2 linked regions of the Homo sapiens genome follow. The protein of the gene in region 2 interacts with the protein of the main gene of each other region in a biochemical or structural test. Each region holds a gene or a part of one and is shown on either strand. Other genes may lie near its edges.

Evidence for each region. The genes of interacting proteins can lie anywhere in the genome.
Region 1: the proteins of HORMAD2 (region 2) and SYCP2 form a complex in vitro, tested with the Homo sapiens proteins (one study listed by BioGRID).

Annotation. Positions count from the first base shown.
Region 1 is NC_000020.11:59,867,631-59,874,665, forward strand, and holds part of SYCP2 (synaptonemal complex protein 2), read right to left. Parts: intron 6,432-7,035; coding exon 6,226-6,431; intron 2,354-6,225; coding exon 2,168-2,353; intron 1,296-2,167; coding exon 1,205-1,295; intron 939-1,204; coding exon 783-938; intron 218-782; coding exon 81-217; intron 1-80. UniProt on the Homo sapiens protein: Major component of the axial/lateral elements of synaptonemal complexes (SCS) during meiotic prophase. Plays a role in the assembly of synaptonemal complexes.
Region 2 is NC_000022.11:30,118,464-30,125,498, forward strand, and holds part of HORMAD2 (HORMA domain-containing protein 2), read left to right. Parts: intron 1-292; exon of another isoform or gene 293-447; coding exon of another isoform or gene 448-455; intron 456-516; coding exon 517-584; intron 585-3,168; coding exon 3,169-3,326; intron 3,327-3,500; coding exon 3,501-3,751; intron 3,752-7,035.

The sequences.
Region 1 (7,035 bases), on a different chromosome or scaffold from region 2:
AAACAAGCCAATGGTCTAGTAGAAAGTGTGGCATATTATTATATTATTGGGTATAAATCATAATTTAAAGAATAACTCACATTATTCCTTCTCTTAAATTCTGAATTGAGCCTCTCGTAAGTCTCATAAGTCATCTCTATCCCTGCAAATTCATTTTGCCAGGTCTCCCAAGGAATAGAAAAGTCATTTGTTGATAATGAAGATACACTTTCAGACACTAAAAAATGAAAACAATCTGCTGAAGTTAAAATATGCATTACTCTAAATTTAGCCTTGTAATTAGGCTAAGAACAAAATCTATCTTATTTTCCGAATCTATGTGTAACCTAAGGATTATGAAATCAAAGGCAGAAGAGTTCCTTATGTTTTTTTTAATTTAAAAATCAGATTATTCTGATTTATAAAACAAACTTTTTGGTATGGCTATTACAGCAGAAATGACTACTTTAAGCTGGAACATTTATGGATTATTTTTAACTGCTTTTTAACTAGTTCCACATTATTATTAGGTATTTAGTGAGGTACTAGCACATCAGTAAATTCATACTCTAGTTAACCTAAATGTGATAGTAAGTGACAGAATGATGAGGGAGATCTATGGGCATCTAAGACCCTTACTACAACAATTATTCATATAAATGTGAACTTTGCAATAAAGCATCATCCATCTTGGACATATCCAAAGTTGTCTTTACAAATTTGTTTTGTAAATAGACTCATTCAAAATATAAGAACCACCCTCCAAATAACTGCATTTTGATACAGGCTACTGATCTACCTACTTTTGTGGATATGATGATCTGCATCTTCAATTTTACACAGTTTTTTGGGAAGCAAGTTTGCTCTCCTTTCTCCTTTCTCTTCCATTTCTACTTCATTGGAATTACTTAGATTATCTTCTATATATATTCTTTTGCGACTAAGATGTTGGGTGGGGCCTTAGGAACAGTTAAAGAAAGTTAAAAGCGCTGCAATTTTCATTAAAAATACCTCATATTTTCTTGCTTTTATTTTAAAAAGGCTTTGTTTCCACTAAGTATTTTTATTATGTTTTAGGTAATTATGCATTCAATTCTACCTAGTTTATTTTCTTTTTACATTAAGTTGAATAACGGTATGACTTAAAATACATAATTCCTTTAGTTGAAATGTCACGTAGCATTTCAGTAATCATTTTTTAAAAAGCAAGACTATGACTACAAACCTGATACATGAGTAGCATCACAGGGCATGTCAAACCACGTTTTCTCTCTTCCTTCACTAGACTTGGATAATGAAGATGCTAAATGACTTTCCTAAAATACGTATTAGAAATTAGAAAAAAATTCCGTAAATATATTTCAATTCACATTTTATCACCTTTCTCAAACCCAAAAACCAATAATTTTAAATGCTGTCAATTCTTTCTCAGATTGTTTCTATCCCTTCCTTTTCATCTCTAATATTTACCATGTGTTAACCTTGATTCTAAGTTGACCTCAATCTTCTTGTAATAGCTGTGATGTGAGCTACTTTTTTTTCTATTCCTGCTTTTCATTTCTTTATTAGGATTTCCATTTCTTTGAGTCAGGAAATGAGGAGCCACAGAAAACTAAAGTTTAAACTACTCGTCTTTCAAACCACATCTTTCACATCTAACCTTATGTTATACTATTTGAATATACAGGTTTTACTTAGTAACCTTTACATAGGTTACTGATTTTTCTCCACTTAATCTACATATACCTACCCATCCACTTAGGTCTAGCTCAAATCGCAGCCCTCTCCAAGTTGTAAAATTCTGTCTTGATTTTCTATATTTTACAGGTTACTAAAATATTTTTATTGATGGATGGATGGGCTTTTATGCTGGCAGGAAGTTCAACCAAATACCTATATATTCACGAAACCAGAAAGTGCCTATTGTAAATATGCAATCCGGGGTTCAGCAGTGGTATCCTCACTATTTAAGACCTTACTACTCTCATTTTAAAAGTTTCAACTTTCTTCTATCAAAAAATATTTTTCTATGATCAAGCCATTCTATATACTTTAAACATCAGATTTTCAGGTAATAACAGTTGAAAAGCATTAAAATATTATAATTACCACTAAAGGTCAGTAATCTGAGTCTTATAAGAACCATCTTAGTGTAAGGAAAATTTATAAGTTATAGTCCCACACTTACCTCTCTTTTGCTTTGTATATAATTTTCATTGATATGTGGAGATTCAATTTCCATAAACCGTTCTTCTGAACTATAACTGCTTACATCTGAATAGCTGTTACTGTTTTGTGTTTCTTGTGTAAGTACCAGAGAACTTATTTTTTTTCTATTTACAATAGTATTACTCTTAGTTGGAGTATGTCTGGGCTATGAATGAAGACATACAAAAACCCAATAAGAAGTTACAAAATTGTTCAAAGCCCCCCACTTCAAAAAGAGTTGAACATAAGAAACATTAAAGCAAAACTGCAAAACTACTAATTCACTGCAAAAATTCAATTCCAATTCATAACTAAAAATAAAAAATCCTTAGGCAAGTGGATTATTACTTTGATGACCAAAACCTGTAGATAAGGATCCCTGCTAGTACAGTTTCTATGCTCCAGAGGTCAAAGTCACCTTAACAAGAACACGAATAAGAATTTTTTGCATTTTCTGTTCTAATCTTCATGTGTAACAGTTTATATGGCTGTCTATACAGAAAAGCCAAGAGAATCTAGGCAGACAATCATGATAAAATTCAGCAAGGTTGTTGGAGATAAAACAATCAATAGTTTTTCTATATAAAAATTTTAAAACTCAGAAAATGTAATTTTTAAAAAAAGTCTTTTTTTTAATACAGCAAAAAGAAGACCCATAAAATACTTAAGAATTAATCTAACAAGATGCATAATTTCCTTTGTAGGAGACTTCACCCAACTTTGCAGGAAATAAGACAAAAAAGTGGAGAGAGAAATCATGTGTAGATAAGAAAGATCAACATCAATATTGAAAAATGGCAATTCTTCCCTTAGACAAACTAATTCTAAAATGTATATGAATCAGTAAAGGGCAAAGGAATTCTGAGGAATGGTGGGGCAGGGGGTATGTAACACCCTATAAATGTAAAATGACCCCAATTAAAGCAATGCTGGTATTAGCACAGAGATAGATAAACAGGCCAGTAAACAGTAAAATCTAATGGTGCCTAATCCAGGCCCATGTGATCACCCAGCCTATGACTAAATTAAGACTATTCCACTCCTGATGTCGCACTAATTTGATATCCATATGAAAAAGAAAGCCTGGAGAGACTCAAATCTAAAATTTGAGTCAAATTTAGACTCAAATCTAAAATAAGAAAATATTTTTATGACAATAGCTTAGGGGAAGATTTCTTAAACAACCCAGAAGATTGGTAAATTTGATTATGTCCTATCTTTTGTCATAGGGAAGTTGTGTAATTAACTGAAAATATACATACTAGGAAAAGAATGTTTACATTATATACAACGAATAAAGAATATCCAGAATATATTAAGAACTCATACAAATTTGTAAGAAAAATCAAGCAATGCAATTTAAAAATAAGAAAACAAACAGGAAATTCACAAAATGGCCAAAATCATGTGAAAATACTCATTGATGCAATGAGTCAGGAAAATGCAAATTAAAGACACAACTTTATGCTTACCAGACTGGCAAAAACAGAAACAACTGATAACATCTACTTAGTTAAAACTGTAGAGAAATGAGCACTATCTCATAGCAGTGTTGAGAGTGTAAGTAGGTTCAACTACCATATAAAGCAAATTTCCAACACCTTATTAAGAGTTGACAGTAAAGGGGCAGCATGGGGGAATGTCTCATGAGTGTCCAGCCAATGAATATGTAACTGTTAAAATTCCATCTAACACAGAGTAGCATCAAAGATGGTGGGTGGGGATTACCTAGGCTTGGAGATTTTGCAAGGTGGCATACTGAAGGGATTAAAGGATGCGGGGGAAAATAAGAATGACAGAAACAAAGGGATTGGTTCTAGGACCTCTTGTGGATATCAAAATCAGAAGATGCTCAAATCTGTGATATAAAATGGTTCAGTATTTGCATATAACCTATACACATCCTCCCATATACATAAGTAATCTCTAGATTACTTATGATACCTAATACAATGTAAATACTCTTAAATAGTTGTTATATGTGTTGTTTAGGAAATGGTGACAAGAAAAAAAAGTCTGTACATGTTCAATACAGACACAATTAAAAATATATATTGTTGTCTGTGGTTGAATCCACAGATGTGGAACCCACAGATATGGAGGGCCAACTATATTGATAAAGGATCACAGGAGAATTTGTGTGAATTTCACTAGTGTGAAACTGGGTTTCAAATTGTGGTCTGTAGAAACTCAGAGTTTTGAAAATATGCCTTGGGGATTATTTGGGAGAAGGAGGTGAAGGAGGCTAGGTAGATCTAGGGTTTAGATCTCCTACCTCTACTTTAAACAGCATAGTTCTACTTTTATCTTTCTGACACACAATGGTCCCTCTTAGCTGCAGTTTTGCTTTCCAGGGTTTCAATAACTCATGCTCAACCATGGCCCAAAAATATTAAATGGAACATTCCAGAAATCATTTATAAGTTTCAAATTGTGCACAATTCTGTGTGGTGCCATGAAATCTCTGGCCATCGGGTTGTCCTGCCTGGGATATGAATCATCACTTTGTCCAGCATATCCATGCTGTATATGCTACCTGCCTGTTAGTCAAGTAATAGCCATCTCAGTTATCAGATTGACTGTGGAGATATCGTAGTGCTCAAGCAACCCTTATTTTACTAAATAATGCCCCTCAAAAGCAAGAGTAGTGATGCTGTAGTGTATTGTTATAGTTGTTGTTTTGTCATTGTAATAATTTATAAATTGCATATTTATAAGTTAATGTTTAAATTAAACAATCATAGGTATGTATGTATAGGAAAAAAAGATAGTATATATAGCATTCAGTGCTATCCTCCATTTCAGGCATCTATTGGGGGGGTCTTGGAACGTATTCCCTGAGAATAAGGGGTGATTACTGTACAGAGTACAGGTAAGAGTTTTGTAACAGGAATGATCACTTCCTAAGAGATACTACTAATTGTTCTACACATTAGAACTACACACATTTTCTAGATCTGAATAGGCTTATTCCTGCAATGCAGGTACTTCTTTCAGATTTCACCATAATTTAAAGTCTATGGCCTTTAATAAACTTTAGTTACAAAAATTACAAGTTGACAAAGTAAATTGATAATTTAGTTGAAAACAGTGTAATTACAATATTTGGTTTAGGTGTTTATAAGGAAGTTTAACAGGTAAATGGTAGGAATATAAAAAGTAAATATATATTGAAAAGAAATTCTTCATTCTTCCTCATCTATGTATCACATTATATGTATCATTTCTTCTTAAAATATAGTAGACCCTCCTGAAATCACAGATAGTACCTCACCCTATTATACTATGCACAGATTTCTTTTTCCTAATTTCATGGAAAGATGATTCATTCTTACCATAGATCTTAGCAACTTCCACATACCTTATTTTTGGTTCCTTATTAAGCACAGAATATTCACCATTTCACTTAAAGGAAAACTTTATGGCTTCTCTTTGGCCTATCTGAATTGTCAGCATCAATACTCTTGCCCTTTGGCGGTATTGTTAAGTAAAATAAGGGTTACTTTAACACAAGCACTGCAATACCTCTACAGTTGATCTGATAACCAAGATGGCTACTATGTGACTAACAGGCAGGTAGGGTATACAGCAGCATGGATACTCTGGACAAAGGGTTGATTCACGTCCCAGGAGGGACAGAGTGGATGGCTCAATATTTCATCACACTATTCAGAATTACACACAATGTAAAACATATGAATTGTTTATTTCTGCAATTTCTTATTTAATATTATCAGACCACAGTTGACTGTAGGTAACTGAAACCTCAAAAAGTGAAACCACAAATAATGAGAAACTACTGTACTCTCCTGCTACCACATTCTTCCTCCTGTATAGCTATACATTTATTTGTCTGTTAGGTTCATCAAGACTGGCAAGTATCTCTCTCTTGTCATTATGTCCCTCTCCCCCAAGACCCTAGACCAAACCCAAAACCTTAAATAGACAAGCAATGTGTATCTGATTAAGATGATAGGGAAAATAACTTACTACCTTCAGATATATCTGATAAAGAGAAAAATATATATACATTCTCACCAAAAACAGTGGTCGTGGAATTGGTGAACAACTTTCACTTGCACACAGGAAGTTTTTCTCATTGTTTTTGGGTGACTTTATTGTACCTCCAACTCCACTGTTACTATTTAAGGATTCAAGTGATGAAGTTTTTGGATAAGGTGATATAGATTTTGTTATGCAGTCATAATCCTGAGTAAAATCCTTTTCTGTTATTTTCTCTATACCTATATTGCATCAAAATAAAAAAGAAAATAGATGGCAAGCGTTATCATTGATGTCTGCTTTAGAAATAGCACGATTAATTTAAATTCTAAGAATTTGTCAGATCTTCAAATCTTAGCTATAAAAAAGGATAGCTTTAAAAATATTAAGACCAAGTTATATTTAAAATATTTGTAAGACTGAAAAACAAAATGGCTGAATTTAAAATGTACTTGTAACCACAAGAACTTTCAAAACATTTTCCAACAAAAATATCTACAGTATGACCTGAAATATAAGGATCAACCTAAGTATTATCTTGAGTATTCTGACATCATAGCTGATTGTGTTATATATACACATCACAAAATTTTATGATTGAAAAAGGCTTGAGAAATCATCTGCTCTACATCTTTCACATAAAAATTAGAAAATTTACTGCTGGAATAAATCTTAATATAAATAAATCCTCAGACAATTTTCAGATCGAATCAGGGCATGTACATCTATCTCCTGAGTATGCGCTTATGTGAAATTTCATAGTGGTCCTTAGTACTGAGAACACAATAGCTACTTTAGAGGAAGCAGAAGTATACTAACTGATTTAAGTCTTGTATTTTAACTGAA
Region 2 (7,035 bases):
TATCACAGCATCTGCTTCTTGTTCACAGCACTTACACTATCGGAATTAGCTTATTTCATTTGTTTACTTATTTACTGACTATTTCCCCTACTGGATTGTATGTATATTCCAGAAAAACAGGGACCTTTTCTGTCTTGTTCACCGCTGTGACTCCAGTGACTGGCACAAAGTAGACATTCAATACAATATTTGTTACATGAATGAATGGTTTCTCAACTGTTTCCACTGTTGTTTACCTAGTTTGGTTAGATATTTGACTCTGTGATTTTGTTTTTCCAGCTTTAAAATGGTAATAATAGTATCTTTCATCTAATTTATTTTTAGCATGGAGGAGAAAAACTAGGTTGTCTTTATATTTGGAAATATTACTCTTGAATAATGTGATACTGTGAAACAAACAGCTATATAGGAAGTACAGTAGATATACAGTGAAAATGTTCCTTACTTATGATCAGGTAAGATTCTGGATTTCTTTTCTAAATTCTTTTTTTTCTTTATTTCCTTTGGTTTTTGTAGAAGGTGACTGAGATGTACCAGTTCAAATTCAAATACACGAAAGAAGGAGCCACTATGGATTTTGACAGGTAGAATCTAACTGCTTAATGAACATGAGAAATAAATAGGATTGAGGTAAACATAAGCTTCTTGAGGCCAGAGAAAGGCCTTATACTTCTTTACACATTTCCCCACAAACCCTACAGAAAACCACTATTATAAAAAGGGGCTGCAACAATTGTTTACATTCCTGAAATCCATGGATTAAGCTGGTGGGAATAGAGAAAATGGCATGCAGCACAAAGGTAGAAATTATGTCAATAAGGTTGCCTACACGCTATTGATTGAATAACTCCATAAGGCTCTGTCTAGCCATTAATTCAAAGTTTCTCAACTGCTATGCCTAGATAGCGATCCTTTCCACCTCGATATAGCCAGCCTGTGCCTAGGGTAGATAATACCCTTGGACTATTTGCCCGTATGCACAAATATTCTCATTTGCTTACCCCAGTATGTCATATAAATATCATTTCCTTGTGTCCTTGTATGAAAAGATTAGAAAGCACTGCAGTTTCCTTATGAAGTCGAAAATTCCAAGTTTTAGGTTACTAATGGGTTAAATAGCAAACACAAGGACATTGAAGAGCAACGTTTATTTTTCTCCCAGTAGCTTTTGGATTCAGACCTGCCAGGGGGGATGGAGAGCTAAGTATTGCTGATGAGATGGCACAGTAGTGGAAGGTACAGATGATGGTGAAAAGCTCTGGATAGTAGAGGAATCCAAGTAAGGGGGATGGATGCCCTTGAAAGGAAAGACTGATGAGAGACATGGCCTAATTTTCAATTTTCCCTACTATTAGCTCTGGCTCATCATTTGCCATGAGCTTGAGGACTTTTCTCCAAGATTCACTCCCTTGATTATCCTTCCATTTGTAAAACCTACAGACAGCACTAGAATGTGAAGAGAAAATCAGTTCCAAAAATGAGAATTAAAATATTACCTTTTATTAGCTAACATTTGTATAATACTTTACAGCTTATACAGCAGCACTTTTCATACACGTTTTCTCACATAAAAAGTTACCTTTACTCTCCAAAACTCAAAAATATACACTGATGGCCAGATTAAACTCTTTTGTTCTGAAGGCACATATGCCAAGAGGTAAGCTGTAAAACAAAAATGGCCAAATCTTTCACATGCTAAGGAGAGAAGGTGATGCATATTATTAATTTCCTAGAGAAGAAATATAGGCATTTGTTTAAATGGGAGTCCTGAATATGATTTTACTGATGTGTCCTGGAGGCTCCCATGAGCTACATATCTATAGCCCTTCATTCTGGTTACCTACATTTGAATTGGTTAAATCCTGGTTGGCAGAATTTTAAGTTGTTCAAAATTGGAAAAGGAGCTAATGTATTCACTTAATAAATGTTTGCTTCATGAATTCACACTGTCTCCAAAGATCAGTTAGGGAAAAATCCAACATTTCAATTACTTAGGGTTATTTTTCATATTAAGAGCTAACTATGTGCACAGCCATGTGTAAATATATTATAGTCATGGTCCCTCCTGGAAACTACTCAAATGTGAGACTAATTGTGGAAGGAAACTTTGGAGATAAATGAACAAAGTTTAGAATTGGAAGGTAATTTAGTCCAAATTGTTCATTCATTCATTAATTCAACAAATGTTGATTGAATAGCTGGGCACCAAACTCTGTACTGTGGAGATGAAAGATATAGCCACTCACAGTCTAGAGAAGGACAAATAGTTATCCTGAGGATGAGATGAGGGTATTATCAGAGAAGACTTCTTTGAAGAGTCTGCGCATGAGCTAGGTATTAGAGGATAAATTTAGGACAGTCAGGAAGAAAAGTGGAAAAGCACAGTACAAGCAAAGTGAACAGCATATGCAAATACTTTGAGTGAGAGGAAACTGGGCAATAGCTGCAGATGAGGATGGAGGTGAGGATATGACGGGTTGTGAAAGGAATTGTATACACACTGTCTTTGAATTTGATTGAAAACTGATGGATATAATAGAAGAATTCTAAGTAAGAAGGTGACATGAACAGATTTTCCTATTAGTAATATTATTTCAGCGGTGATATGGAGAATATTTTGTAGTGTGGACAAGAAGGAAAGCAGGAAAAATAGTTAGATAGCCACTGTAGTAATCAATGCAAGAGTGAGGAAGGGATACTTTTGCGAGATAATCAGACGGTAGAAAGTCCCAGAGCTGGTGATTGATTTTATGCTTGAGAGTTGTAGAAATGTCTTTACGCTTATCTCACAAATGAGCTAACTGACCTAGAGTGTGTCTAAATGACTTGACCAAGGTCATTCAGCTAGTTATCAGCAGAGCTGATATTAGATGCCAGGTCACCTAATTCCAAATTCGTTGTTCTTACTGTTGTGGTATATGATTTTTTTCAAATCAAATTTTTAAAAAGATCGTATTTTAAATGCTTTTAGGGAATTTGCTACTTAAGAAATTCTTTGTATATACATTGCAAAAAGTACCATCGCTCCCCTAATTTACATTCTAAAAAAGTCTCAAAATATACTAATGTTTAATTTATATTTACTCACATAGTCAAAAGTTTTGTTCCTTTTGGGATAGATTGCCACTATTGTATATGATCAAAAAGTATGCTTTTTTTTCTGTGTAGTCATAGCAGCAGTACAAGCTTTGAAAGTGGAACAAACAATGAAGATATTAAGAAAGCCAGTGTTCTACTGATCCGTAAATTGTATATACTGATGCAGGACCTTGAGCCACTTCCTAATAATGTTGTACTTACTATGAAACTCCACTACTATAATGCAGGTAGGTAGAGAACTTTAGGCAAATTCCTCCTTAAGTGCTGAGCTAATATTTTCTATAAGTAAAAGGATTTTGCAGGCATCTGAAAGAGAAGTCTGTTGCTACACATGAAAGATTAATCGGATTTGTTGTATTGAAACTCAGTTTTCATGGCTTTTTGCCCTTTTCATTTCGCAGTGACCCCACATGATTACCAACCCCTCGGTTTTAAAGAAGGGGTAAATTCACACTTCCTGCTGTTTGACAAGGAGCCTATCAACGTGCAAGTGGGATTTGTCTCCACTGGCTTTCATAGCATGAAAGTAAAAGTCATGACAGAGGCTACAAAAGTGATTGATTTGGAGAACAATCTGTTTCGGGAGAACAGCACTACTGAGATCGCCCATCAGGGTCTAGACTGTGATGAGGAAGAAGAATGCAATGACCATGTAAGGCAAAGCTTTAGAGATTTTCTATCGTGTCAGTTAAACACAATTGATATTTTTCAGTTTCTACCCAGGGCATGCACGTGGAGTGTGCCAGCTATAAAAACTGAAACAAAACTAGTCTCTGACATCAAGGAGTTTTTAATCTAAAAAAGTTTAATCTTCTAAAAGGAAATATACTTTATCAGATGAAATTGTCCATAACTAGGAGGAAAAAGATTTTCTAATATATTTATTTTATTAAAGATATCATAAATTTAGAAAATTTGAGGTTTTCTTTCCTTTATTTGTAAATGACATAATTTTAGGGTTGAAAAATATTCTAGGTATTTATTCATACTCATTGGAAGTATAAATCAGTTCTTGATACTGAGATAATTGGATGGGAGGAGTTGGGGAAGATAAATTTTATGGATAAACCCGAGTCAGCGTGAAAACAAATAATAGTTAACTTCTGGTTATGTGGAGGAAGACAAGCTTTGGGGCTAACTCACTGGGGAAAGTCAGGGGGTTGGTGGGGTTGGAGCTAGTGGAGCCAAACAGTCAGGTCTCTGATCCCTTTATCCTCCCATTTCCACCAATAGAGACTTGGAGTTAGATTCTTGCTAGGGTCCCATTATGCCCTAGGTAACTCCACACCCTTAACTGGTGGTTGTCTGGATAATAATGTTAACTGTATGACAACATTGTGTTAAAAGGGTTCTGAGTTAGACAAAAAATTTTCAGTAGGAAGGGATGCTATAAGATCTTTTCAGGAGATATTTTAAGATTAGAATGATAACTTGTTTGCTTAAGATAATTTGAGTCTTATTTAAAGATAGGTGACTGTACTAGGTAACTTCTGAAGGTTCCTTCTAGTTCTTTAACTCTGTATTATGTTTAATACATTGAAAAGAGGTTCTAGTTGTTCTAGTTTTAATTCAATTAATGTAAATAATATAACCAAACAAGTAACAGATTGTTTTTAAATTTTTAGTGCTTTCTCGATGTTAGACATAAAAATGACTTTGGATTTTGGTGCAATTTTCCTCTTCCAATTTCACCCAAGGAAGATATAGCTAACATAGAAAGGGGAAAAAAAATGAAGGTTAAGAAAAGAATGTTTCAGCTAGTTTTTTTTGTTGTTGTTCTTGTTGTTTTTGAGACAGGGTCTCGCTCTGTTGCCCAGGCTGAAGTACAGTGGTGCAACCATGACTCACTGGTGCCTCAGCTTGCCAAGGAATCCTCCTACCTCAGCCTCTCGAGTAGCTGGGACTATAGGCACATGCCACCACACCTGGCTAATTTTTTATTTTTTAATTTTTTGTAGAGACAAGGGTCTCACTGTTACCAGGGCTGGTCTTAAACTCCTGGGCTCAAGCAATCCTTTCACTTTGACCTCCCAAAGTGCTGGGATTACAGGTATGAGACACCACACTGGGCCTCAGCTAGGTATTTATTTATTTATTTATTTATTTATTTATTTATTTAGGGAAAGAGTCTTGCTCTGTTGTCCAGGCTTGAGTGCTGGAGTGCAGTAGTTGATCACAGCTCACTGCAGCCTTGACCTTCTGGGCCCAAGTAATCCTTTCAGCTCAGCCTCCAGTGTAGCTGAAACCATAGGTGTGCGCCACCACACCCAGCTTATTTTTTATTTTTTTTAGAGACAGGGTCTCCCTATGTTGTCCAGGCTGATCTTGAACTCCTGGGCTCCAGTGATCCTCCTGCCTTGGCCTCTCAAAGTGCTAGGATTACACCACACCTGGTTAGATTTTTACCTTTTAATTAAGAATTTCTTTCTTTTTTTTTTTTAATCAAATGAAAGCAGGACAACCTAAGAACGCATAGTTCAACTAATAGATTAAATAAGAAATGTGATAATCCTTCTCAAGCATACATTTAGTTGAAACTATATGTATTATATGGACTTTGTGGTAAACTTAGTTGATTGAAGTTTCTCTCTCAGCCAGCCAAACATATGAGAGAATTTAGTAAGTCTAGTAAAGTGGTTACTGTCACTTTCCCACTAAGGATTCCTTTTTGTTTTCCTTCATGGAATACATGGAACACACACACACACACACACACACACACACACACACATACATACATGTGTATACATATGTAGAATCTTTATTTCTTTTAAAAATTTTATTTTGAGATATACATATAATAGACTACATAAAAATATGTACAGTTTAAAGAATAATGAGAACATCCATATGTCCTCCATTTAGGCTAAGATGTAGAACATTGCTACTCCCTTAGAAGCCACCACGTGTCCCTTCCTCATTGCACGCCCTCTGAAGGTAACCACTCTCCTGACCTTCATGATAACCTTTCCTTGCTCTTCTTTATAGTTTTGCCATGGATGAGTACATCTACTCGTTTTAAATTTGTATATCAAAGTAATCATACTCTGAGTATTCTCCTTTAATTTTCTTTTGCTTGAACTTCAAAGTTGAGATTTAGCCATTGTGTTATTGTTCTTTCATTTTCACTGCTGTAGAGTTTTCTACTCTTGATAGACATTCTTTTTAATTGCTATAAACATTCATGTACATACCTCCTGGTACACCTGTCAAAGAGTGTCTCTTGGGAATATATGAAACAGTTCTAGGCTTGTGTATTTTCAACTATATTAGGTAAAGCAAAACTGTTTTCCAAAGTGGTCGTACCAACTTACTCGCTACCCCCAGTGAAGGAGAGTACCCTACATTCTTGCCAACACTTATTGTCAGGGTTTATGTTTCCTGCCAGTCTGCTAGATATGAAATGGTAATGCCTCATGATGTTAATTTGAATTTCTCTGATTATTTGTGTGTTTGTGCATCTTTTCTTTGGCCATCCTATTTTGCTCATATTAAATAGCTGTTCATGTCTTTCATGCATTTGTCTCTCAGGTTATTTATCTTTTCCTCAATGGTTTAAAAAATATGTGCTTAGTAATAATTCTTTTTCACTCATTTATGTTGCAATATTTTTTTCATGTTTGTGGCTCATCTTTTCACTTTCTTTTTCTTTTCTTTTTTTTTTTTTTTTTTTTTTTTTTGAGACAGAGTTTCCTCTTGTTGCCCAGCAGGCCTGAGTGCAATGGCACAATCTCAGCTCACGGTAACCTTCTTTCTCCTGGGTTCAAGTGATTCTCCCGCCTCAGCCTCCTGAGTAGCTGGGATTACAGGCATGTGCCACCACACCCAGCTAATTTTGTATTTTTAGTAGAGACAGGGTTTCTCCATGTTGGTCAGGGTGGTCTTGAACTCCCGACCTCAGGTGATCCGTCCGCCTCAGCCTCCCAAAGTGCTGGG